2 separate regions of the Homo sapiens genome follow, and region 1 is linked to region 2. Evidence: fine-mapped expression QTL. A gene starts in region 2. The other region holds a variant in brackets. All regions are shown on one strand. Distances are from middle to middle. Region 1 overlaps KLK8 (kallikrein related peptidase 8). Region 2 holds the start of KLK6 (kallikrein related peptidase 6).

The links. PIP is the estimated chance that this variant, and not a neighbour inherited with it, causes the effect.
Region 1: its variant is fine-mapped to the expression of KLK6 in tibial nerve (GTEx, PIP above 0.99).

The regions. Positions count from the first base shown.
Region 1 is chr19:50,986,207-50,998,390 of GRCh38, forward strand. KLK8 (kallikrein related peptidase 8) reads right to left here. Exons shown (of 6, transcript NM_007196.4): 5 at 11,545-11,678; 6 at 9,802-10,008. The coding sequence ends at 9,853. Among named protein-coding and RNA genes, the nearest start is that of KLK7, 8.4 kb to the left of the region's middle. RefSeq lists a silencer at 4,253-4,453 and an enhancer at 8,007-8,301. The variant C/T (reference allele first, on the strand shown) is at 6,247.
Region 2 is chr19:50,965,815-50,977,716 of GRCh38, forward strand. It overlaps KLK6 (kallikrein related peptidase 6), which reads right to left and starts at 3,777. Exons shown (of 7, transcript NM_002774.4): 1 at 3,676-3,777; 2 at 2,727-2,777; 3 at 2,251-2,298; 4 at 1,355-1,511. The coding sequence starts at 2,290. It overlaps LOC105372442 (a long non-coding RNA gene), which reads left to right. Exons shown (of 7, transcript XR_007067308.1): 3 at 1,511-1,674; 4 at 2,459-2,539; 5 at 7,146-7,246; 6 at 7,367-7,519; 7 at 8,846-8,912. KLK7 (kallikrein related peptidase 7) reads right to left here. Exons shown (of 6, transcript NM_005046.4): 6 at 10,654-11,877. The coding sequence ends at 11,722.

The DNA of each region.
Region 1 (12,184 bases), 21 kb after region 2:
AGACACAGCAGTGATAAAACAGAGAAAAATTTCTGTCTTCATAGAGGTTTTTGTTTTGTACTGTCAGGTCAGCACAAAAATAAGCAAATAAAATGTAGAGTTTGTTAGGTGGTTGTAAGCGCTATAAGGGAAAATCCAAGCAAGGAAGAGGGTTGGGGAGTTACTGATTCCCTCTACCCTCGAGGATCCCTGAGGTTATAATATCAGGAAGGTTGGCTGCAAAGACCCCACGTGAAGGTGATATTTGAGCAAAGTCTTGAAGGAGATGGTGGAGGGATCCAGGTGGCTGCTTGAAGGTAGTGAGTTCCAGGCAAAGCGAGCAGGCAGGTGTGTTAGCCAAGGAGCATATCTGAAGTGCCTCAGCAGACAAATCACTGCGACCAATACAGAGTGACCAAAGGAGATGAGGGCAGGTGATGAGGCCAGAAATATAACAGGACTCTGATGACATGCGGTCTGAAAGGTCTTTGGCTTTTATTTTGAGTAAGACAGGAACCATTGTTGGACACACTTCTAAAGTTGGAATTGACCTCAACCTCTAAATTATATCCCCAAAATGGGATTTATTTCTCCACCCTGGACCTAAAACTTATCTCAATCCTGACCCCAACTCAATTCTTTTTTTTGCTTTGTTTTGTTTTGTTTTTGTTTTTGAGATGGAGTTTTGATCTTATTGCCCAGGCTGGAGTGCAGTGGTGCGATCTCAGCTCACTGCAATCTCCGCCTTCCAGGTTCAAGCAATTCTCCTGACTCAGCCTCCCGAGTAGCTGGGATTACAGGCATGTACCATCACACTTGGCTAATTTTTTTTTTTTTTTTTTTTAGTAGAGATGGGGTTTCTCCATGTAGGTCAGGCTGGTCCCTAACTCCCGACCTCAGGTGATCTGCCTTCCTCAGCCTCCCAAAGTGCTGGGATTACATGTGTGAGCCACCACGCCTGGCACCCCAACTCGATTCTACATTTGACCCATAATAGTAGACATTATTGTTGTGTCCCCAGGCATTCACTCCTTCTGCCTTTCTATCAGAGGCTCCATTTTGTTTGGATAATACTTTATCCTCATCAGGACTATAAGCCTCAATGAACCAAGCATTGAAGCCATATTTCGTTTGCTTAATTAGTTGGAAAATGGACATGTGCTGTTCTTCTGGCCAATGAGGAGGAGGGGAAGACCACTGAGGCACTTCTAGGAAAGACTTTCTCATTTTCAAAAAGAGGCACTGAAAGGGGACTTTTTTCTTCTGCTAGATGGTGTCTTTTCTGGATGCAAATTCTGGAACTGTGGCAGCACCCCAGGGACCACAGAGGGAAGTGACCAGAGGACTAAGTCAAAACACTGCAGGTAGCCCACCAGAGAGGTGAGGATCAGCTGGGTCTTTGATGAAGTCACTGAGCTGGTGAATTAACCAACGATGGAGCCTCTTCATGTCATGATTTTTCAGATTCCCCTTCTGGGTTAGAGTTGCTTGGTCCTTGTAGCCAAAATCATCTTTATAAGACCTCAATGTTCAATCAGAATATTGACTCAGATCCCAAATCTGATCCCAAGCCACAAATCCAAATCCGATTCTAACTTGATTCCATATCTTGAAGCCACATAAATCAACAAACTCAACCATGCCTCCAGTCTTAGCTCTCTTCCCAACCCTCATCCCCATATCCCATTTCAGCCCATATCCCATTTTGGCCATTGTTAATGTGAAGATGACCAATTTAATTTTTAGAATAGTCTTTTTTAAAAAAACAAATTAGTAATTTGGATCCTATAGCTGACTACCTCTCATCTAAATTTAATTTTTTCTTAGTTTTTCTTCTATACAGTGGATTTCTTATTTTTTAGGGAAAAGTTGTTGATTGTTTATGCAATAGTTTAACACCAATCCTTTATATATTTAACAAATATGGATTGGGTGGTAGCTATCTACCAATGAGGATACAATGGTGTGCAAACCTAGATAGTGTCTCTTCCCTCAAGGAGCTGATAGTGTCATGTAAAAGAAATACAGTCAATTCATAAACAAGTGTAAAATTACAACTACAAGGCATGCTCTGAAAGACAGGTGCAGGGTATTATGAAGGCACTTCCAGAGGGGTTAGACCCAGGAATTGACTATGAGCTGAGATTTGAAAGAATATTAAACTAGAAGAAATCTTCTAGGAACTAGAAGTAGACTAGAAGAAATCTTCTAGTAACTAGAAATAGTAAACTAGAAGAAAATTTCTTCTGGTAACTAGAAGAAAATTTCTTCTGGTAACTAGAAGAAAATGGGAGGAGAATGGGGAGTGTGTTGTGTAGAGAAAAGAGCATGTGCAAAGGCCCAAGGCATTATTGCTGGAGCTCGGAGGCCAGAGGTTAACTGGGACCAGATAATGACGAGCTCTGTATGTCATTGTGAGTCTTGCTTTATCCTGTGGATAATGAAGAACTATTTGAACCTTAGTCAGAGAAATAACATAACAAGATTTGTATTTTCAAAACATCAACCTAGCTACTGTATGAAGGCTGGATTTGGGTGGGATGTGAAGATACTGGGCAACCATGGGGGAAGTCATTGTTGTTGTCTAGATGAGGGAAGATGGTGACTTGGATACAGGTGGTTGAAAGGTGGAGACGATGTTAAGTACATGGGTTCAAAATGCACTTAGGAGAGAGAATCAACAAGCCTTGGTGATGGATTGAATGAAGGTTGTGTTGAGGTAGTGGAAGATGTTAAGATTTCAAAGTCTGTTGCTCGATGGACAGTGATGCCATTCATTGAGAAGACATGGTAGATGTGGTCAAATGGTTCTGATATGACAAGAAAAGACCTCAGACCCTGACTTCAAGCAGAACCCTAAATCCAACCTTTACTTTGACACAACTCCCAACACGTATTTTGACATAAGCCCCAGCCTTTTTGTTTGTTTCAATAGCTTTCGGGGTACAAGTGGCTTTTGGTTACATGGATGTATCGTATAGCAGTGAAGTCTGAGATTTTAGTGCACCCATCACCCAAGTAGTGTATATTGTACCCAATATTTATAGTGTTTTATCCCTTATCCTCTTCATACCCTCCCCCTTCTGAGTCTCCAGTGTCCATTATACCACTTGGTACCCACTGCTTAGCTCCCACTTACACATGAGAACGTAAGGCATTTGGTTTTCCATTCCTGAGTTACTTCACTTAGAATAATGGCTTCCAACTCCATCCAAGTTGCTTCAAAAGACATTATTTGATTCTTTCTATGGTTGAGTAGTATTCCGTGGTGCATACACATCACATTTTCTTTATCCACTCATCAGTTGATGGGCACTTACTTTGGTTCCATATCTTTGCAATTGTGAATTGTACTGCGATAAACATACGTGTGTATGTGTCTTTTTGATATAGTGACTTCTTTTCCTTTGGGTAGATACCCAGTAGTGGGATTGCTGGATTGAATTGTAGATCTACTTTTAGTTCTTTGAGAAATCACCATACTGTTTTCCACAGAGGTTGTACTACTTTACATTCCCACCAGCAGTGTATAAGTGTTCCCTTTTCATCACATCCATGCCAACATCTATTGTTTTTTTGACTCTTTAGTAAGCCCCAGTCTTAACCCCAAACCTTAATCTGTACCCAATCCTGAACCTCAAATTCTGCTTTATCCTTGATGAACCCCAATTTGTATCTCAACCAATAACCTAAATCTTGACTGAGTTCTTGACTCCAAATATCAACTCAGGCTAGGATCCAGACCTCAATCAAACTTAACCCTCCTGACCCTTGACCTTAACCCTGAACCATTAGCCATAAGCCAAACTCAACCTTGACCTGAGCAGTGAATGTCACCATAGCCTGAGTATCAAGCCTGCCACGGGATAATTCAGACATTAGTCTCCATTCCCATCATATTCTAGGAAGCCCACATTCATATCCTCCCCCATGAACCCATTCCCTCACATCCAACACCAATTCTAACACTCTCACCCCATCCCACCCCTATTCTCATCCTCAACCCAATTGCTACCTAAAATCCCATTCTCATTTCCATCCCCAATTCTTTTCCCAGTTCCATTTTTATTTCTCCAGCTCACCACACAACTTTGACTCTTCATTTTACAAAAACTCTAAAATAAAGTCTGCCAACGAATATCTTGCTAACATTGATGCTATACTAACTCAACTCAAGCCGAGTCCCAAAATCTTCTGAGACATTTACTGTCATCGAATCCAAAATCAGATCCCCGAACTTGGACATCTAGCCCTGCCCATTCCACAGCAGCAATCTGGTCGTGAAGGGTGTCAACATTCCTGACCTGGGCTCCCAAATCAAGGAGAAGCAGACTCCAGCCCAGTTGACCTCACAGCTCCATGATTCAGCAATCTGTATCTTTCCTTCCTGGCTTCTCAAAGACAGAAATGGTAGCAAGACTTCCAGTGTATTATCTACTCCCTGCATCTTCATCCTTAGATTCTCTCCTCCCTCAGTCCTCTGCCTCCTTAGTATCTGTTAGAAAGAGGAAGGAGCCAGGCTACTCTAGAGCCCTGTTATTCACTCCTAAGTCACCAAAACGTCTATCCTCTGCTTTTCATCATCTATCATTCTGTAAATTATATTCCTAATTATTTAACCTGATTTTGTTGCCAAACACTGGTCATCACAAGCAGAGGAAATGTGTGTGGGGTTCTTTTTTTTTTTCCAGCACCCCGCCCAGACCGGAGAACACAGGAGGTACTTAAATAAATACTAGTCTGCAAACTTCTGGCATCCACAGGTCCACAGGCCTTAGATTCAGTCCTGCCTTGATCCCTGAGCTGTTCCACCATGCAGTGTGACAGAAAGAACTAGAAAGAACTTGGACTTTCAACCCAGCTTTGAATCCTGGTTGCCCACCCTGTGACTTCGGGTAAGTGACTTCATTTTTCTGAGTCAGACTTTGCCCCTCCCCAAAGTGGAGGAGAGCAAAACCTATTTACCGAGGCAAATGAGAGGATTAAATAAAATTATGAATGGAAAATTGATGGGCACATAACAGCCAGTGAATTAACATGAGTTCCCTCAGCCCATCACCCACGGAATGAAGAAGCAGCTCCCATTTTCCCCCCTACATTTAGTGTGGTGTGTCTGTATTCCTCACATTGGTCCAGGTGAGGATTGTCATCCCCATTTTACCTTTATTTTTTGCCGCCTGCCCCATCATCCCCATTTTATAGATGAGAAAATGGAGGTTTAAAAAAGGCTAGATCACTTGAGCAAAGTCACAGAGCTGAGGAGTCAGAAGTGTCAGAATTCAGCCAGGCGTGGTGGCTAAAGCCTGTAATCCCAACACTTTGGGAGGCCGAAGTGGATGGATCACTTGAGGTCAGGAGTTCGAGACCAGCCTGGCAAACATGGTGAAACCCCATCTCTACTAAAAATACAAAAAATTAGTCGGATGTGGTGGCATGTGCCTATACTCCCAGCTACTCAGGAGGCTGAGACAGGAGAATCACTTAAGCCAGTAAGCAGAGGTTGCAGTGAGCCGAGGTTGCACCACTGCACTCCAGCCTGGGTGACAGGGCAAGACTCCATCTCAGGAAAAAAAAAAAAAAAAAAGCCAGAATTTGAACATTGGGATTCAAAGGCCTATGGTATCACTACTGCACAAATCCATACTCTGAGAAGGAAATTTCCTTGTTACATCCACATGTACCCTCTGAGTCTCATTTGGTTCAAAACAGACTTGGATCGCCCTCAGCCTATTAATGATGCATACCCCCATGTCAGAGAGAGGCCCATATCCAGGCCCCCTGTGCCCTTTGCATTTAGTCCTGGCACCTGTTGCTAAGTGTCATCCAGACACCCAGCCCCATACCTCCATCGTCCTCAGACCTATGTCCTGAACCTTTGTTAAATGACTCATCTTCCACCTTATGATCACACCTGAGAACTGGCATCTGATAATCTTGCCAGCTATGCCTTTCCCTGAGGGATTCTGAACACTGTGACCCTCGTACCTCCTGACTCAGCCCATGGGTTCTGATGGCCCATTGTTTCATACTTCCTGGATTCTCTTCCTCCTTATTTCTTTCTTTCTTTCTTTTTTTTTTTTTTTTTTTTTTTTTTTTTTTTTTGAGACAGAGTCTCACTCTGTCACCCAGGCTGGAGTTCAGTGGTGCGACCTCAGCTCACTGCAACCTCCACCTTCCGGCAGAACCCCATTTCTTTTGGGGGAGATGCTGCCTTATTTCTTATAGTTCTGGTGAAACTGTCAATCGTAGTTCTCCAACTCCACCCAC[C/T]CACTGAGGCGGAGAAATGACCCAGGCCAAGTCAACAAGATCAGTGTTTTCTCTCTGGCAACAATGATAGATTCAAGGGGTGGGCCCAGTTCAAACTGGACCAATTAGAGTTCCTCCCTGGGATTAATATCAAGATGCCAGGAGAAAGGAGATTTTTGTTTCTGTTAGTAGCTGCTATGTTCCCTCCATGCCCCTCCTTAGTACCTAAGATTGAGTAAATCAATCCCCAAGTCTTTTCAGGCTTATGTTCCACTGGAGACATTAAAGTATCTCCTGGACCAGCCTAGGCAACATGGTAGAGTCCTAGCTCTACTGAAAAAAAAAAAAAAATGGCTGGGCGTGGTGGCACATGCCTGTGGTCCCAGCTACTCAGGAGGCTGAGGTGGGAGGATGGCTGAAACCCAGGAGGTAGAAACTGCCTTAAGCATTGTTTGTGCAATGCTCACTGTACTGTAACCTGGGTGACAGAGTAAGACCTTGTCTCAAAAAGGAAAAAAATCTCCTTGGCATTGGATGATACTAAGAAAGTATCAACTGTGTAAGGTGTGATAATGTAAGTTGGTTATGTTTAAAACGAGTCTCTTTTGGAACAAGGATTGGCAAATTTTTAAAATAAAGGGCCAGAGAGTAAATATTTTAGCTTATGTGGACCAAGAGAGAAAAATGGAAGATATTATGTAGATATTTAATAGCAGGAAAGAAAATAAAATTTCACAATTTTTAATTGATGAAATTCAAAATGTAGTAATGATAATTTAGTACAAATTTTTTGTTGCTATTCCTTATCAAGCTCACGCCTGTAATCCCAGCACTTTTGGAGGTGGAGGCAGGCAGATCACTTGAGGTCGGGAGTTCAAGACCAGCCTGACCAACATAGAGAAACCTTGTCTCTACTGAAAATACAAAAAATTTTAGCCGGGCGTGATGGTGCATGCTTGTAATCCCAGCTACTCAGGAGACTGAAGCAGGAGAATTGCTTGAGCCAGGGAGGCGGAGGTTGCGGTGAGCCGAGATCACGCCATTGCACTCCAGCCTGGGCAACAAGAGCGAAACTCCATCTCAAAAAAAAAAAAAAAAAAAAAAAATTTAGCTCAGGAGATTTGGTCCAACAGCTGTAATTTGCCATCCCCTGTTTTAAAAATGCATAATAAAATATTTAAGAATGAGATGTTGTGGTGACTGAGATTGCTTCAAAATATTCTGGCATTAGGGAAGTGTGTGGTGGGAGTATAGGTGAAACAATAATTGGTTTTGCATTAACTTTTTTTTTGAGATAGGGTCTCACTCTGTTACCCAGGCTGGAGTGCAGTGGTACAATCATAGCTCATTGCAGTCTCAACCTCTCAGGCTCAAGTGATCCTCCCACCTCAGCCTCCTGAGTAGCTGGGACCACAGACGCATGCCACCATGCCCAGCTAATTTTTTAATCTTTTGTAGAGACCAGTCTCCCTATGTTGCCCAGACTGGTCTTGAATGCCTGGGCTCAAGCAATCCTCGTGCCTCGGCCTTTCAAAGTGCTGGGGTTACAGGCGTGAGCCACTGCACCGGACCTTGCATTCATTATCGAAGTTGGATGGTGGTATATGAAGACACATTATGTTATTCTATTTTGCATGTGTTTGAAATTTTCCATAATAAAAATTATAAAACAATTCTTTGAGTTGAGATGTCCCCCCCAGAAATGCATCCCTGGCATCAGAAGTTTAATGCCATGCTTGAAAGACTTCCTCAGGATTTCTGGTATGGGGGAACTGTCATAAAGCATCAGGGAGATTGATGAATGCAAGGTATCTCACACACCCACGCCCCTTGTGGAGAATTGCCTTCCCATAGCACTAAGTGGCCATGTTTCATATCACATGACTCCAAGTAGCCACTGATTGGCTAAGATTTGGTCACCTGACTGGGATGCCATCAAATGATTGGCCATTCAGTGACCAATGATGTGGCTGAAGAAGAAAAGGTGAGCTAGATGAATCAGATTCTCTTTCATGAGACTATTTTCTAAAGATCCTAGTGAAGGAGGAGGCGGGGTTTAACTCTGGACTAGATTGAAGACAGCTGGAACAGGGAAAAGGCACCAAAAGCACATCTCCATAAGACGTGCACACCAGCACCATGACAGTTTGCCACTGCCATGACAACACCCAAAATTTATCAGCCCTTTTCTAGAAATTTCTGAATAACCCACCCCTTAATTTGCATGTAATTGAAAATGGGACTAAATATGACTACAGAACTGGCCCTGAGCTGCTACTTTGTGCTCAATGCCTATGGGGTAGCCCTGCTCTGCAAAGAGCAGTACCTCTGCTACTGTGCAGTACTGTTTCAAGAAAAGTCACTAACACCACTGGGTTGCCCTTGAATTATTTCCTGGACAAAGCCAGGAACCCTCCCTGGCTAAGCTCCAGTTTTGGGCCCACCTGGCCTGCACCACTAGAAGAGTGACTATATCCTTGTAATAACTACCCCCTCCACACTCATCTTTCCCTAAAACAAGTTATGTTAAGCCTTTGCTTTAATGAAAACTTTCCCAAATGCCCTTTGCGTCACACTTCAATTTGGACACACCACTCATTTCCTTCTACCACAGCAGACACCACCAGATGGCTCTAGGCTGTGAGAAAGAGTTCTATCTGGATTTTTGGGAGCTCTCAAGATTTTTGACCCGAGTGGTGGTTTCATGGTTGTTCATTTGTGAATATTTAAGCTGTTCATATATTTTCTGCACTCTTTTCTATGCATATCTCCCAATGTTTTCCCTTTTCTTCTTTTTTTCTTTTTTTTTAAATAAAAATAGAGATGAGGTCTTACATTGTTGCCCAGGCTGGTCTTGAACTCCTGGGCTCAAGTGATCCTCCCACCTCAGCCTGTGAAAGTGCTGGAATTACAAGCATGAGCCACCATACCTGGCACAATTATTATTATTAATTTATTTGTTTATTTATTTTGAGACCGAGTCTTGCTCTTGTCACCCAGGCTGGAGTACAATGGCATGATCCCTGGCTCACTGCAACCTCCGCCTCCTGGGTTCAAGCGATTCTTCTGCCTCAGCCTCCTGAGTAGCTGAGTTTACAGATGCCCACCACCACACCCTGCTAATTTTTGTATTTTTAGTAGAGACGGGGTTTTGCCATGTTGGCCAGGCTGGTCTCGAACTCCTAACCGCAGGTGATCCATCCGCTTCGGCCTCCCAAAGTGCTGAAATTACAGGCTTGAGCCACCGCACCTGGCCAATTATTTTTTAAAGGGGGAAAATTTTATCTCCAAAGCTTGTAAATGCTTTGCTCAGGAAAACTAAACACAAACTCTTTCAAAACTGTCTTTCACATACCAGCCCACTGAATGTTTGAAGACCTTTGTATGTATTTTCTCCCCTGAAATAAAGCTCTTACCCAAGTTCTTCCAGAAAACGAGGGATCACTTTAGGCAGTGGTGATGGCCAAAGTGACCATGAGAACTTGGTTTCTGCACATCCCCACCTAGTCTGCCAGCAGGAACAATCCCGGATCCCCATCCAGCCCTCCCCACAGGGCCAAAACAGAGACAGGCAAGGAACCAGAGAGTTGTGAGTTTATTAAGGGAGATCTAGTGCTTATCCTAGAATCAGCCCTTGCTGCCTATGATCTTCTTGATCCAGTCCAGGTAGCGGCAGATGTTGGTATAGACGCCAGGTTTGTCGGACCTCCCACAGGGGTCTGAGCCCCAGGATGTGATGCCCTGGAGTGCACCATCACACACCAGGGGGCCTCCAGAATCGCCCTAGACAGGGAGAATGAGAACAGCCTTGCATCTGAGATGTCCACAACGTCCCTTTTCCTGCTGTCCCAGCGTTTTACCAGTTCTTTGGCATGATTGGTCCCCTGTAGCCAATGGGGGTAAAAGCATTGTCCCCTGAGACCAGTCAGGACAGGGCTTGGGGCTTCCATGTACAGACAGACATGGTGTCTAAGGGTAGTGGTCAAAACACTGACAGAAGAGGGGAAAGAATGAAATCCCAGACAGGCTTGGTGGCTCACACCTGCAATCCCGGCACTTTGGGAGGCCGAGGCGGTAGATCACTTGAAGTCAGGCGTTCCAGACCAGCCTGGCCAACATGGTGAATCCCTGTCTCTACTAAAAATACAAAAACTAGCTGGGTGTGGTGGTGCACACCTGTAATCACAGCTACTCGGGAGGCTGAGGTGGGAGAATTGCTTGAACTGGGAGGCAGAGGCTGCAGTGAGCCAAGATTGTGCCACTGCATTCCAGCTTGGGGGACAGAGCGAGACCCTGTCTCAAAAAAAAAAAAAAAAGAGTTCTCGAGGGTCCAATCCAGGGAGAAGACAGTAGGGATTACTTGGAGAGGACTGAGCTGAAGTTTCCTCTGTTCCTGGCCAATAGTGAAGGCATCATTGATTGCAGTTGCCAAACATAGGAGAAAGGATCAAGATTCTTATGGACACACACACACACACACACACACACACACACACACACACACACACCATATCCCCAAGAGACCATGGCTGAAATATTTGTGGAAGAGACCACTATCTCTACAGAACAATCCAGAGACTGGCTTTCATGGCAGTATCGCTGATGGAAACGACTCCATTTTTGGCCAATGGGGAAGAAAGCATTGTATTTAGGGACCAGTCATTGGCAAAGGTGGTGGGGCTTCCAGGAAGTGGACAAAGCCAGGGGAAAGTGCTAGGAACAACGAAGTTGCAGTTAGAAGAGAGAGTTATATCTATGACAAATCCCAAGAGAAAGGGATTGGAGCTCATTGAGGAAGCACTGAAGTCAATGGCACCATTTACTCCAGCCAACTGGGAAGACACCATTGTCTCCCAAGGAACCAATCACAGGAGAAGGGAACCAGCCTTGGGATTCTAGCCCGGTCTCAAAGAAAAGTGGCTGACCACCGGGCCGGTGGTAAAGTCGGCACAAATTCCACGATGTAATGCTGGGAACCAGAGAGCAGGCAACTCGTCTAAACTCTAGCCTCAGACTCTCTCCTTGCTGGACATCTACCCCACCCTCTATAGCCCCCAACTCTGCATCCCATCCTGTAGTTAAGCGTTCGAAAGAAAACAGCAGCAGCAATTCAATGCTCCTAATCCCTATGCAGTGTGACTTTCAGAGAGAGAGTTTGGCTTCTCTGAACCTGGCTCCCAATCCGTAGAGATAGGGGTGAACACTCCGGGTGCCAAGTCTTTGGGGTCACTCCCTTACCACCCCCACCCCCATCCAAGCCTTGAACCTCGAGAGGGCAATGAGGGATGTGTGAGGAGAAGGATTTCAGAAATTGCTCACCTGGCACGTGTCAGCCCCTTTGCTGCTGCCTGCACAGACCATGCCATCTGTGATCTGCCCCGGGTAAGCATCCTCACACTTCTTCTGGGGAAAGATTTTTACTTCTGCACAGTTGAGAGTGTCAGGAAAATTCTCTGAGGGGGAAGAGGTTGTAAGGTTCCCTGAGAGAGCAGCCCTTTGCCTCCATCCCTGTCTGGATCTAACCCCCTTTCTTTCCAGGATGTAATGGGGGAGTTTTCCAGCTGCATGGGGGAATTTTCTGACACTGTGCACAGGGGACATCACTTCTCACCACATTAAACGAAGCTGTACTTGTTGCTATTGGGCTTTCTCCATCTAGAGAGGGGCCCTTGGATCTCACGTGTTTTTTCTTACCCTGAGCCATTTTCAAATCAAGGGGCTGGGGGTTACTTGGAGGTGCCCCTTTATGATACCTCTGACCCTCTCTTTCCAGTCTTCCTGCCCTCAGACAACCGGGTCCTCAATCTGTGCTAAATCCTGCTCCTTCCAAGTGTCACCTCCTCCTGGAAGCCTTCCCTGACCACTCGAATTAAAAAATACCATCCCTCCATTACTCCCTATCCTTTTACGCTCCACAATATTTCCTTACAGCACTTTGCCTAATGTTTTATTTTATGTG
Region 2 (11,902 bases):
CTCATTTGCAAAATGGTGCCAAGAGTCCCTTGTGGTGGGCATTCCAGGAAAGGTGTGTACATGGTTTCACTCAGCACCTGATTGGTAGTTAGCATCAAACAAGTGGCAGCTGTCGTGAATCTGACTAGTGAGGATCAGCGCCCAGGGTTTTTGTCCTGGGCCCTCCAGCTCCTCCAACTATGCCAGCTTTTTGGATGATCTCATCTAGTCCCATGGCTTTAAATACACCTGTTTGCTGACGATGCCTTCATTTTAACCTCCAGCCCTGACCTCTCCTCTGAGCTCCAGAGTCCTCCCTGGCCTCCCTGCTGGGACATCTCCCCGGCATCTCCAACTCATCGTGGCTAAAGCAAAATGTCAGATGCTCCCCTGCCTACACCCGGCCTGTTTCTCTTTCCCTCTCCCACAACTCAGAGAAAGACGTGGCAAAACACCCAGTTGTTCAGGACAAATACACGGAAGCCAGCCGTGCTTCTTCCTCTCCCTCCTGTTCCTCGTTGCCAGATTCTGCTGGCTCAGTCTCAGAATTCCACATCCCAAGATATTCAACATCCCTCCATCCCCACTGCGACCGCCTGGGTTCAAGCCACCCTCCTATGTCGCCGGATGAAAGCAACAGCCCCCACGTGGGCCTCCCTCCCTCTCTCTTGCCCAGACCACGTTCCACGTGGTAGCCAGGGTGCTTGTAAAAATGTAAATCAGGCTGGGTGTGGTGGTGGCTCATGCCTGTAATCCCAGCTCTTTGGGAGGGCGAGGCGGGCGGATCACCTGAGGTCAGGAGTTCGAGACCAGCCTGGCCAACATGGTGAAACCCCGTCTCTACCAAACATACAAAAATTAGCCAGGCAAGGTGGTGCACACCTGTAATCTCAGCTACTTGGGGTGCTGAGGCAGGAGAATCGCTGGAACCTGGGAGGCAGAGGTTGCAGTGAGCTGAGATCATGCCACTACACTCCAGCCTGGGTGACAGAGCGAGACTGTGTCTCAAAAAACAAACAAACAACAAAAACAAAACTGCCCAGTGGCTTCCTACTGTGCTCAGAATTAAATCCAAATGCCCATCACGCCCTGCAGGTCCCCAAATGATCCAATTCCCCCATTAGAAAGTAAGTTCAGGAAAACAGCAATTTTGCTTGTTTTTTTTTGTTTTCTTTTTTTTATTTTCTTTTCCACTGCTATGCCCGCAGGGCCTGGCACACATTAAGTACTCAATTAAGCAACAGCCGAATGCACCTGGCTATCAGATGGCCTCGTGCTGGGATGGGGGGGATGCCTATGTCACCTCCTGCCTGACATCTATAAGACACCCTCAGGGTTCAGTCGCATCTGCTGTTCATTTACAGTGTAGACTCACGGTTTTTTGCAGTGGGCAGCTGTGAGGACCCACAGTGGATGGATAAGGACCCCACCACAGAGCAAGTGGCCCGAGGTGTAGAGGGCAGCTTGGTAGGGGTGAGATGTCTTGTCGCAGGGTCCGCCATGCACCAACTTATTCTGCTCCTCTGCCCAGGCTGAGGGAGAGAAGATCTGAGTCAGAGAGGAGTTCTGGAGAAACCAAGCGCATCCCCCTCAACATGAACTCCAGTCAAGATTGGTCAGGTGCAGTGGCTTATGCCTGTAATCCCAGCTGAGGCAGGAGGATCGCTTGAGCCCAGGAGTTTGAGACCAGCCTCGGTAACACAGTGAGACCTCATCTCCACACACACACACACACACACACACACACACACACACACAAATTAGCAGGGTATGGTGGCATACGCCTGTAGTCCCAGCTACTTGGGAGGCTGAGGTGGGAGGGTCACTTGAGACCCAAGAGTTCAAGTCTGCAGTGAACTATGGATCATGCCACTACACTCCAGCCTGGGTGACAGAGTGAGACCCTGTCTCAAAAAAAAAAAGCTTCTCTGTATTTCCACTCCCAAACTTACCCCATTCCCATTACAAACCCAACTGTATCCCCTATTCCCGGGCTCTCTCCAACTTTCCAACCTACCTCCTACCTCTTCTATGTTTAGATCCCCATCCCTAAAGCCAACCCCACCCCAAACCCTCATATCTTCAAACCCACCTCCCACCACCCTCCCTATCTGTATTCCCCACCCTTAGCCTAATCCCCAACGTCTTCCTCATTTCAAAGCTCCCCCACCCCAACCCTGTGCATATCCCCATCCCCAATACCAGCCTCTTCTCCATCAACAAGCCCAACCCTGTCTGCAAGCCTCCCCCATCCAAATGCCCTTTCCCCACCTGCAGCAATCAGACTCAGCACCACCATCAGCTTCTTCATGGCCGCTCCTGAGAGGGGAAGCCACATGGTCCATTAGTCACTGCCTCGACCCTCCCCCCATCCCTCTGTCTGCTCCCTCTGCATCCTCTCCTTCCTTCCTGGCCTGCTATGGTCTCCTGCCTTGACCTCTGTCCTTCCCATCTAGCCTCCTGATTTATTCTTCCTCAGCCCACATCTTCCATCAGAGGATCCCACGAAAACAGTGCCAAAGAGAATTCAGAACTACGTCCACTGGTCCAGTAACCCATGGTGAGATTCTGATTAGATCTTTCTACTTTCTTGGGCACTGATTTGCCTTCCTGTCGACAGGAGAGGGTTACCCTAGGGGGCCCTAGCGTTCTTCCTCTGTATGGGAGTTTTCCTCGGAGCCTGGCTCTGTGCGCAATGGCCACCCACCCCGCCCACCCGGCAGGTTCTGTGATGTCTGTGATCTCACCTGCTGCAGGCCTCCGGGCTCCGGGGATTCTTGAGTCGGGGGAAGGAACAGCTTTGAGACGAGGAGGCAGAAAGAGTTAGAAATGCGGGGAGCCGTGAGGAGAGAAGACACTCAGATGCAGTGGCAGAGCCAAGCGGAGGACGCAGGGGCCGCAGAGCCCAGGGCTGCAGGGACTGCCAGACACACACCCCCAGCTCCCAGGCCTCCCTGGAAGAGGCTGGTTCTGTCCCCAGATGCTTCTGGAACGTCCTTTTAACCCCTGTCTCTCAGGTCCCTGAGCCAGGAGACTGGCTACACCCTTTTCCTCCTTACCCAGGCCTCCCACACACATTCCTCCCGCCCCCACGCTCTGCTCTTGGTGACCCCTGACCAGGCCTCCAGGGAAGGGAGCACTGGTCCCTGAGTGCAGTGAGGGCCTGGACTCCTGGGTCTGAGGGAGGAGGGGCTTGGGGGCCTGGACTCCTGAGTCTGAGGGAGGAGGGGCTGGGGGCCTGGACCCTTGCGTCTGAGGGAGGAGGGGCTTGGGGCCTGGACTCCTGGGTCTGAGGGAGGAGGTGAGAACTTGGACTCCTGGGTCTGAGGGAGGAGGGGCTGGGGGCCTGGACTCCTGAGTCTGAGGGAGGAGGTGGGAACTTGGACTCCTGGGTCTGAGGGAGGAGGGGCTAGGACCTAAACTCCTGGGTCTGAGGGAGGAGGGGCTGGGGCCTGAATCTGAGGCAGAGGAAGTTCTAGTCGGCTCAGTCCTTAGACCTCCGGGTTTTGGAGAAAGAAAGTGTCTGAAGACAAATTCCGGCCTCTGGGGCAAGCAGATGGTGCCCCAGGCCTCCCTGCACCCCCAGCACTCTCTGTGCCACCCAGGGACCTGCAGGCCCTCACTCCGGGCTCTAGAGCCCTCCGGCACTGGGAAGCAGCCTGCCCAGGTTCAGTGCGGTTGGGGTGACTCACACACCTGCCCGTAGGTCCCTCTGTGTGCTGCCTGCCGACCTCTGTGTCCCCAGGAGAGAGCGAGCCAGCCAGCCGGGGAGACAGCTACAGCGTGTGTCACCACACTGGCCCCCGCCCCTGCCCCGGGCTGGGGAGCAGGCCCAGGCGCGATGGGGAAAGGGCCCAGGAACAATCGGGCTTTGTCCGCCCCCAGCACCCCAGTGCCATGCTCCCAGCAGCTCCGGCCTCAACCTCTCTTCCGGCGGGCAGGCGGGAGGGCGGTTACATCAATGGCTTCCTTTTGTCCCTGTCTGACAGTCCTCCTTTGCAGTCTCTGACTGCCCACCTGGCCCTGACTGGAGATTTCGGCACTCCACATCCTCCTGGTCCTTCTCCTCCAAGTCTGCCCACCCCTGAGGTCTCTTGCTCCATCTGTCTCCCTGGCCATGGAGGGGAGGGAGCTTCCATCTCTCTCTCTCTCCCATCTCAGTCTCTGTATTTGTGTCTCTCTCCCTCTTTTTTTCTCTCTCTCCCTTCCTCTCTCCCTTCCTCTCTCCCTTCCTCCCTTCCTTCCTTCCTTCTTTCTTTCCTTCCTTCTTTTCTTTCTTTCTTTCTTTTTTTTTGACGGAGTCTTGCTCTGTCACTCAGGCTGGAGTGCAGTGGTGTGATCTCAGTTCACTGCAACCTCCGCCTCCTGAGTTCAAGCAGTTCTCCTGCCTCAGCTTCCCAAGTAGCTGGGATTACAGGCACCCACCACCACGCCCGGCTAAATGTTTTTTGTATTTTTAGTAGGGAAGAGGTTTCACCATGTTGGCCAGGCTGGTCTCAAACTCCTGACCTCAGGTGATCCACCCACCTTGGCCTCCCAAAGTGCTGGATTACAGGTGTGAGCCACTGTGCCCGGCCTCTCTCCCTTTCTTTCCCCTTGATTCTCTGACTCTCCGTGCTTATCTTCTCCTGGGTCTCTTCTTAGATTTCCCCGGGGGTAGCACTGTGTGTGCCCAGAAGGGAGTCAGTTTCCCCAGGAAGTAGCGGGGATGATTCCCGAGCGATGAGGAAGCTAGCAGGATGGAAGAGGACTTGAGGACTTATTGATGAGATGCGGACACACAGCGAGAGGCATGGAGTTAAGCAGAAATCGGAGAGCACTTGGGAACGACGTGGGGCTGTGATAAGATGGTGGTGCTGGGCAGTAGCAGAGGGATCTGGGAAGATTTAGGGAGGTGTCTTTGAACTTGGGCCTAGAAAGCTGAGCCAGGCGTAGGTCAGGAGGAAAGGCCGTGAAAATGCCTGGCCTGGGTGCACATGGGAAACCACAGGCAGTGGTTGGGGTGGTTGGTATGGGCTGGAGGGTGAGGGTGTGTGCGTGGCAGAGTGGAGAGAAATGAGGAGGGGGAAGTCACTGCGTAATAAGGACAATGATAGGAATGAAGTCTGGCTCAGCACCTGCTTGGGCTGGGCACTACAGGTAACTTAAAAAAAAAAGTTCTTTTTTCTTTTGAGACAAGGTCTTGTTCTGTCGCCTAGGCTGGAGTGCAGTGGCACGATCCTTGCTCGTGGCAGCCTCAACCCTCCTGGGCTCAAGCGACCCTCCCGCCTCAGTCTTCCCAGGAGCTGGGACCATAGGCATGAGCCACTGTTCCCAGCCAACCCTTTTCTTTGTCTTGCATTGAATCTAATTGTCATCTTGCATTGTGCACCCCCCATCACTCCAGGGATGAAGACTACTTCGGTATTCAGTATACTCTCCGGGTGCTCCCTCTCACATTTGGTCCCCACTGACCTCAGCACCTTCTTCTCAGGACGTGCTATCTTCACAGACAGCAAGTCTGATGTTGCACAACCCAGTGACCAGGCCCTATCCCTCTGCCTCCTCTCTCTGGGGGGTCCCTTCCTCTCTGTACCCACACCCTCAACCCCAACTCAGAGCTGCACCTCTCCCACCTGGACCAGGATCCCTCTGTTCTCTGTATCCCTTGCCCCAGAGAGACCTTCCTGTGCCTTGTGCTGACCTTGCCCCTCCTCTCACAGACGTGCCCTGGGTCCCCATCTCCCTTGGGACCAAGTCCCAGCCCCCCAGCCTGGCATTTGAGGACCTTTAGCATCCAGGGAAGTCCTGGCCAATGAAATGTGATGCCAAGCACGCATGCACATTTACATTTTCCAATCACCATACTTTTTTTTTTAAGTCAGAAGATTTTTTAAGTGTCCTTACCACAAAAAATAAGGGTGTAAAATAATGCATATGTTAAATAGCTTGGTTTAGCCATTCCACAACATATACATACATATATCAAACATGATGTTATACACCAGAAATATATACAATTTTTACTTGTCAATTAAAAAATAAATTTAAGGCCAGGCATGGTGGCTCATGTCTGTAATCCCAGCACTTTGAGAGGCCAAGGTGGGTAGATAGCTTGAGTCCGGAAGTTCATGACCAGCCTGGGCAACATAGTGAGAAACCATCTCTGCAAAAAGTAAAAAAATTAGCCAGATGTGGTGGTGCACACTTGTAGTCCCAGCTACTCCGGAGGCTGAGGCGGGAGAATTGCTGAGCCTGGGAGGTCGAGCCTGCAGTGAGCTGTGACTATACCACTGCACCCCAGCCTGACATGGCTGGGCAAGGTGGCTCATGCCTGTAATCCAAGCACTTTGGGAGGCAGAGGTGGGAAGATCACTTGAGCCTAGGAGTTCGAGACCAGCCTGGACAATATAGTGAGACCCTATCTCTAAAAAAAAAAACAAAAAAAAGAAAAGAAAAAAATTACCTAGGTGTGGTGGCACACATCTGTGGTCCCAGCTATGCAGAAGGCTGAGGTGGGATAGTTGCTTGAGCCTGGAGGCCCAGGTTGCAGTAAGCCATAATCACGCCACTGCACTTCAGTGTGACAGAGCCAGACCCTGTCAAAAATTTTTTTAAAAGGAGTCCTGAGTGGTGAGTGGCCCTCACACTGCATGACACAGCTATGTCTACGTCTCCGTGTGGCTCCAGCTTTCTAGAACACATCAAGCTTCCCTGACCCATGCCATGCCCTCTGGCCTCTGGCCCTTCACTGAATGCTATTCCCTCTTCTTCTTGAGATGGAGTCTCGCTCTGTCGCCCAGGCTGGAGTGATGTGGCGCGATCTCTCTTCGCCTGCTGGGTTCAAGCAATTCTCCAGCCTCAGCCTCCCGAGTAGCTGGGATTACAGGCACACACCACCATGCCTATATTTTTAGTAGAGATGGGGTTTCACCATGTTGGCCAGGCTGGTCATGAACTCCTGACCTCAGGTGATCTGCCTGCCTCGGTCTCCCAAAGTGCTGGGATTACAGGCGTGAGCCACCGTGCCTGGCCTATTCTCTCTTCTTAGCATGTTTTCCCCACCTTTTCCTGGCAATAACCTGTCCTTCAAGTCTTTACTTGGACATTACCTCCTCCAGGAAACCTTCCCTGAACACCACCCAGCTGCCACCTGCTGTAGTTGGATTACTCATTCTCTCACGTAGGTTCCCACAGCAGGTGTCTCCCTCAACCCAACCTGGACGGGGGGCCACCTGGATTGACATTCGTCATCTCTTCCACTGGACCGTGAGCTCCTTGAGGGCAGGTACGGGACTGACTCATCCCTGTGTCCCAAGCAACCACACAGGACCTTGCCCAGAAGAAGCCTTAGGCAAGACTGACCAAATGACTAAATGACTTTATCACACCCACTCCCATTTTACAGATAAGAAAACTGAGGCTCAGAACGGGAAGTTCATTGCTCATCATCAAACATCCAGGAAATGGTGGAGCCTGAATGGGAACTCAGCTTCCAACATGGCGTGGATGTGGCCCATCCCTTGGTGGCCTGGCTGGGTCTATCTTATGACAGTACGAGGTGAGTGAACTTGGGAGGAATTGTTGAGAGCTGGGTGGGGAAAGAAGGGAGGTGTTAGGCTGTGGGGAGTGGAGGGACTTTGAAGAGAAAGAAATTTCTAACTCTACCTCTTCTCTGGTGACCTTCATGGTTTGCCATCTCTGCATACTTTGAATGCTTATTTACTGGATAGTTTGCTCCAGATTGTCTTGCTCTGCAAAACTCTTCACTAAATAAATTCTTCTGTCTCGGTGCAGTGGTTCACACCTGTAATCCCAGCACTTTGGAGGGCTGAGGTGGGAGGATTACTTGAGCTCAGGAATTAGAGACCAGCCTGGACAACATAGTGAGACCCCGTCTCTACTAAAAAAAAAAAAAAAAATCAGCCCAGGCATGGTCCCAGCTACTCGAAAGGCTGAGGCAAAAGGATTGTTTGAGCCCAGGAGACTGAGGCTGCAGTGAGCTATGATCATGCCACCAAACTCTAGCCTGGATGATAGAGCAAGACCCTATGTGAAAAAAAGAAAAAAAAAATTATAAGGAAACTTCATGAGACTGTAAGCAGAAAAAAGTGCCAGAAGTCATAAACAATAAAAACCAATGCCTGGGCCAGGCGCGGTGGCTCATGCCTGTAATCTCAGCACTTTGGGAGGTCAAGGCGGGCAGATTGCCTGAGGTCAGGAGTTTGAGGACAGCCTGGCCAACGTGGTGAAACTTGGTCTCTACTGAAAATACAAAAATTAGCCGGGCATGGTGGCAGGCACCTGTAATACCAGCTACTCAGGAGGCTGAGGCAGGAGAATCACTTGAACCTGGGAGGCAGAGGTTGCAGTGAGCTGAGATCGCGCCATTGCACTCCAGCCTGGGTGACAAGAGCAAGACTTTGTCTCAAAAAAAAAGAAAAACTAAACTAAACTAAACTAAACTAAAACCAATGACCATTGAAGGAAGGCTTACCTCGTGCCACACAATGTTTGAGCACTTTCTGTATATTAACTTATTGAATCTCTGTAATAACCCTAGAAAGTAGGTGCTTTTTCTCCCATTTCAAGGATGAAGGAACAGGGACAGGGGAAGTAATGAGCTTAAAGGAAAATAGCTTGTAGGGACTAGAACTGGGATTTGAACCCAAGAAGCCAAGATCCAGAGCTAGTCCCTTAACTACCACACTATACTGCTTACCCAAAGAAAAATGAATTACTTAAAAAAAATCAACATTAGTACCATCTCAGTCATTGCAAACCAATCTACCTGTAGCTTGCGTATAGGAGAGCAGAGGGCCAGGGCCAGGGATCTCCAGGCTGACTTAGTGCAAATGCAATGTTTTGTTACTTTTTAAAATTCCAGATTGAATGTTGGAGTGCCTTGCAGAAGAGAGAGAAAATGTTGCTAAAACTTCAGGGGAATGACTGGTCGAAAATGTTTGACATTCTTAAACTTGACAGGCCCAGAAACAGAAGGGGCTGGGGACCTGGGCTCCTGGGTCTGAGGGAGGAGGGGTTGGGGCGGGGGGTCTGGACTCTTGGGTCTGAGGAAGGAGGGGCTGGGGGGGAGCCTGGACTCCTGGGTCTGAGGGAGGAGGGGTTGGGGCGGGGGGTCTGGACTCCTGGGTCTGAGGAAGGAGGGGCTGGGGGGGATCTGGACTCCTGGGCCTGAGGGAGGAGGGGCTGGGGGGAGTCTGGATTCCTGGGTCTGAGGGAGGAGGGGCTGGCGGCGGGGAGCGGTCTGAACTCCTGGGTCTGAGGGAGGAGGGGCTGGGGGGAGTCTGGACTCCTGGGTCTGAGGAAGGAGGGGCTGGGGGCGGTCTGGACTCCTGGGTCTGAGGGAGGAGGGGCTGGCGGGGGGGGGGGTCTGAACTCCTGGGTCTGAGGGAGGAGGGGCTGGGGGTAGTCTAGACTCCTGGGTCTGAGGGAGGAGGGGCTGGGGGGGAGTCTGGACTCCTGGGTCTGAGGGAGGAGGGGCTGGGGGGGAGTCTGGATTCCTGGGTCTGAGGGAGGAGGGGCTGGCAGGGGGGTCTGAACTCCTGGGTCTGAGGGAGGAGGGGCTGGAGGGAGTCTGGATTCCTGGGTCTGAGGGAGGAGGGGCTGGTGGGGGGGGTTCTGAACTCCTGGGTCTGAGGGAGGAGGGGCTGGGGGGAGTCTGGATTCCTGGGTCTGAGGGAGGAGGGGCTCGTGGGGGCAGGCCTGCACTCCTGGGTCTGAGGGAGGAGGGGCTGGGGCTGGTCTGGACTCCTGGGTCTGAGGGAGGAGGGGCTGGGGGGAGTCTGGATTCCTGGGTCTGAGGGAGGAGGGGCTGGGGTTCTGGACTCCTGGGTCTGAGGGAGGAGGGGCTGGGGGGAGTCTGGATTCCTGGGTCTGAGGGAGGAGGGGCTGGGGGGTCTGGACTCCTGGGTCTGAGGGAGGAGGGGCTGGGGGCCTGGACTCCTGCGTTTTCTGTGTTAGCCTCCTATATGGGAGAATCAGAATTAGCGGCTGCAGAATTTCTGCAATATGACAGGGCTGTGGTGCCTGGGTTAGGAGAGACTCAGAGGGAGATGAGATAAGGAGGGGAAGGATCTGGAGGATCTTGGTGGGGAGGGAATTCTGGGAGAAAAACAGGAAGAACAGGTAGGAGGGCGTGTCCTGGGCTGGAGTGGCTCCTCGGTCAGCAGCGTCTGAGGTGTGACCACACAGAGGATCTTTGATGTTAGATGGCTGGGGCTGTGGCCAGGCTCTGAGTCACAGAGGACTCCTCCCTCATCCTACCCGCTTCCCGAGGTTCCTTTCCCTCCCTTCTTGGGGAGCAGGTGCCACCATCTTCCTCCGGCACTGTTTGCTTACTTCTGGCAGACCCCCGTGGGACCCCTGTGTCCTGTCTACTGTCATCCCAATCCCTCTGAAAACCGCCAGCCTCCCTCCTCACTTGTCACTCGTGAGATGCTCAGAAACACTTTCACACCCCTTCCCACGCTGATGAAGTTGGCCTGTTCTCTCCTCCCTCCTCCCTTCCTTCTTCCTCTCTCCATCCTTTCCTCTCTCTCCCATTTTACAGACAGGAAAAACTGAGATCTGGGAAATGGAAATATGCCCTGGAACAGGGCCGGCAGGACCAGGGCTCAAAACCAGGCACATATTTCTTTCTAGTCTCCCTTCCTGAAAGGTCACCTCTCTCCAATCTTAGATCTTCAGACTTTTTTCCCCACCTTTATTTTTCATGTTATAAAAGTGCACATTCAAGGAAAAGTACACAGAAGGAAGGAGACACCTCATGACGACCCCAGTATGCAGTCTGGGACATGTGTTTTCAGATCTGATTCTGTGAATATTTCATTTTTTATGGGTAGGGTCACATACATATATATTTTTGTCCTTCCTTTTGTCATTTAACATCCTATAGCCTAAATGTTCTTGAATAATACTGACAATTCTGTCTAAGTATCATTTTTAATAGGTTTGTAATATCATTGTGGGCTGGCCGTGGTGGCTCATGCCTGTAATCCCAGCACTTTGGGAGGCCAAGGTGGGTGGATCATCTGAGGTCAGGCGTTCAAGACCATGCTGGCCAACATGGTGAAACCCTGTCTCTAGTAAAAATACACAAAAAATTAGCCTGGTGTGGTGGTGCACACCTGTAGTCCCAGGTACTTGGGAGGCTGAAGCACGAGAATCACTTGAACCCAGGAGGCGGAGGTTGCAGTGAGCCAAGATTGCATCACTGCATTGCAGCCCAAGCAACAGAGACTCTGTCTCAAAGAAAAAAAACATCGTTGTGCCAAGCCAGACTATTATTTAAGCCATCTGGTACTTTTGGAACATGTTTGATGGTTTCACTTCATTTCTGTGATAAATAATATCATGGTAAATTCAAGTCTTGTTCTACATTTTGGATTTTTTTTGTTTCAGTAGGTTCTTCCTAAGATTAGAGTTACTGGGTCAAAGGTGGTGAATAAGGGTCTCGGTGTACGTTGACCAAGTGTCTTCCGTAAAGACTGTACGAACGTCCAGTTCCAGTGTTTGAGAGTGCTGGTCTCACTGACTCTTCTCCAGCACTGAGGGTTTTGTGTTTCTTTATTTGTTTTGGTTTTAGGTCTTTACCAATTTGATTGGTTTATCAACAGGGCATGAGGTTGGTTTAAATATATCTTTGAGGAAAGGTAAAGTCAAATTTGACTTCATAGGTCATCGGCGTCCTCACTCCTGTGCATTTTCTGTTGGAAGCACACAGTTAATTAACTCAGTGTGGCGTTAGCGATGCTTTTTCATGGTGTCATTTATCCACTTGGTGAACTTGCACACTTGAGTGTAGACTCCTGGGTCATTGGGTTGGCCGCAAGGGAAAGTTCCCCAGGACACCAGACCTTGCAGGGTACCTCTGCACACCAACGGTCCCCCTGAGTCACCCTAGAGGGAATAGAGCCGGAGATTA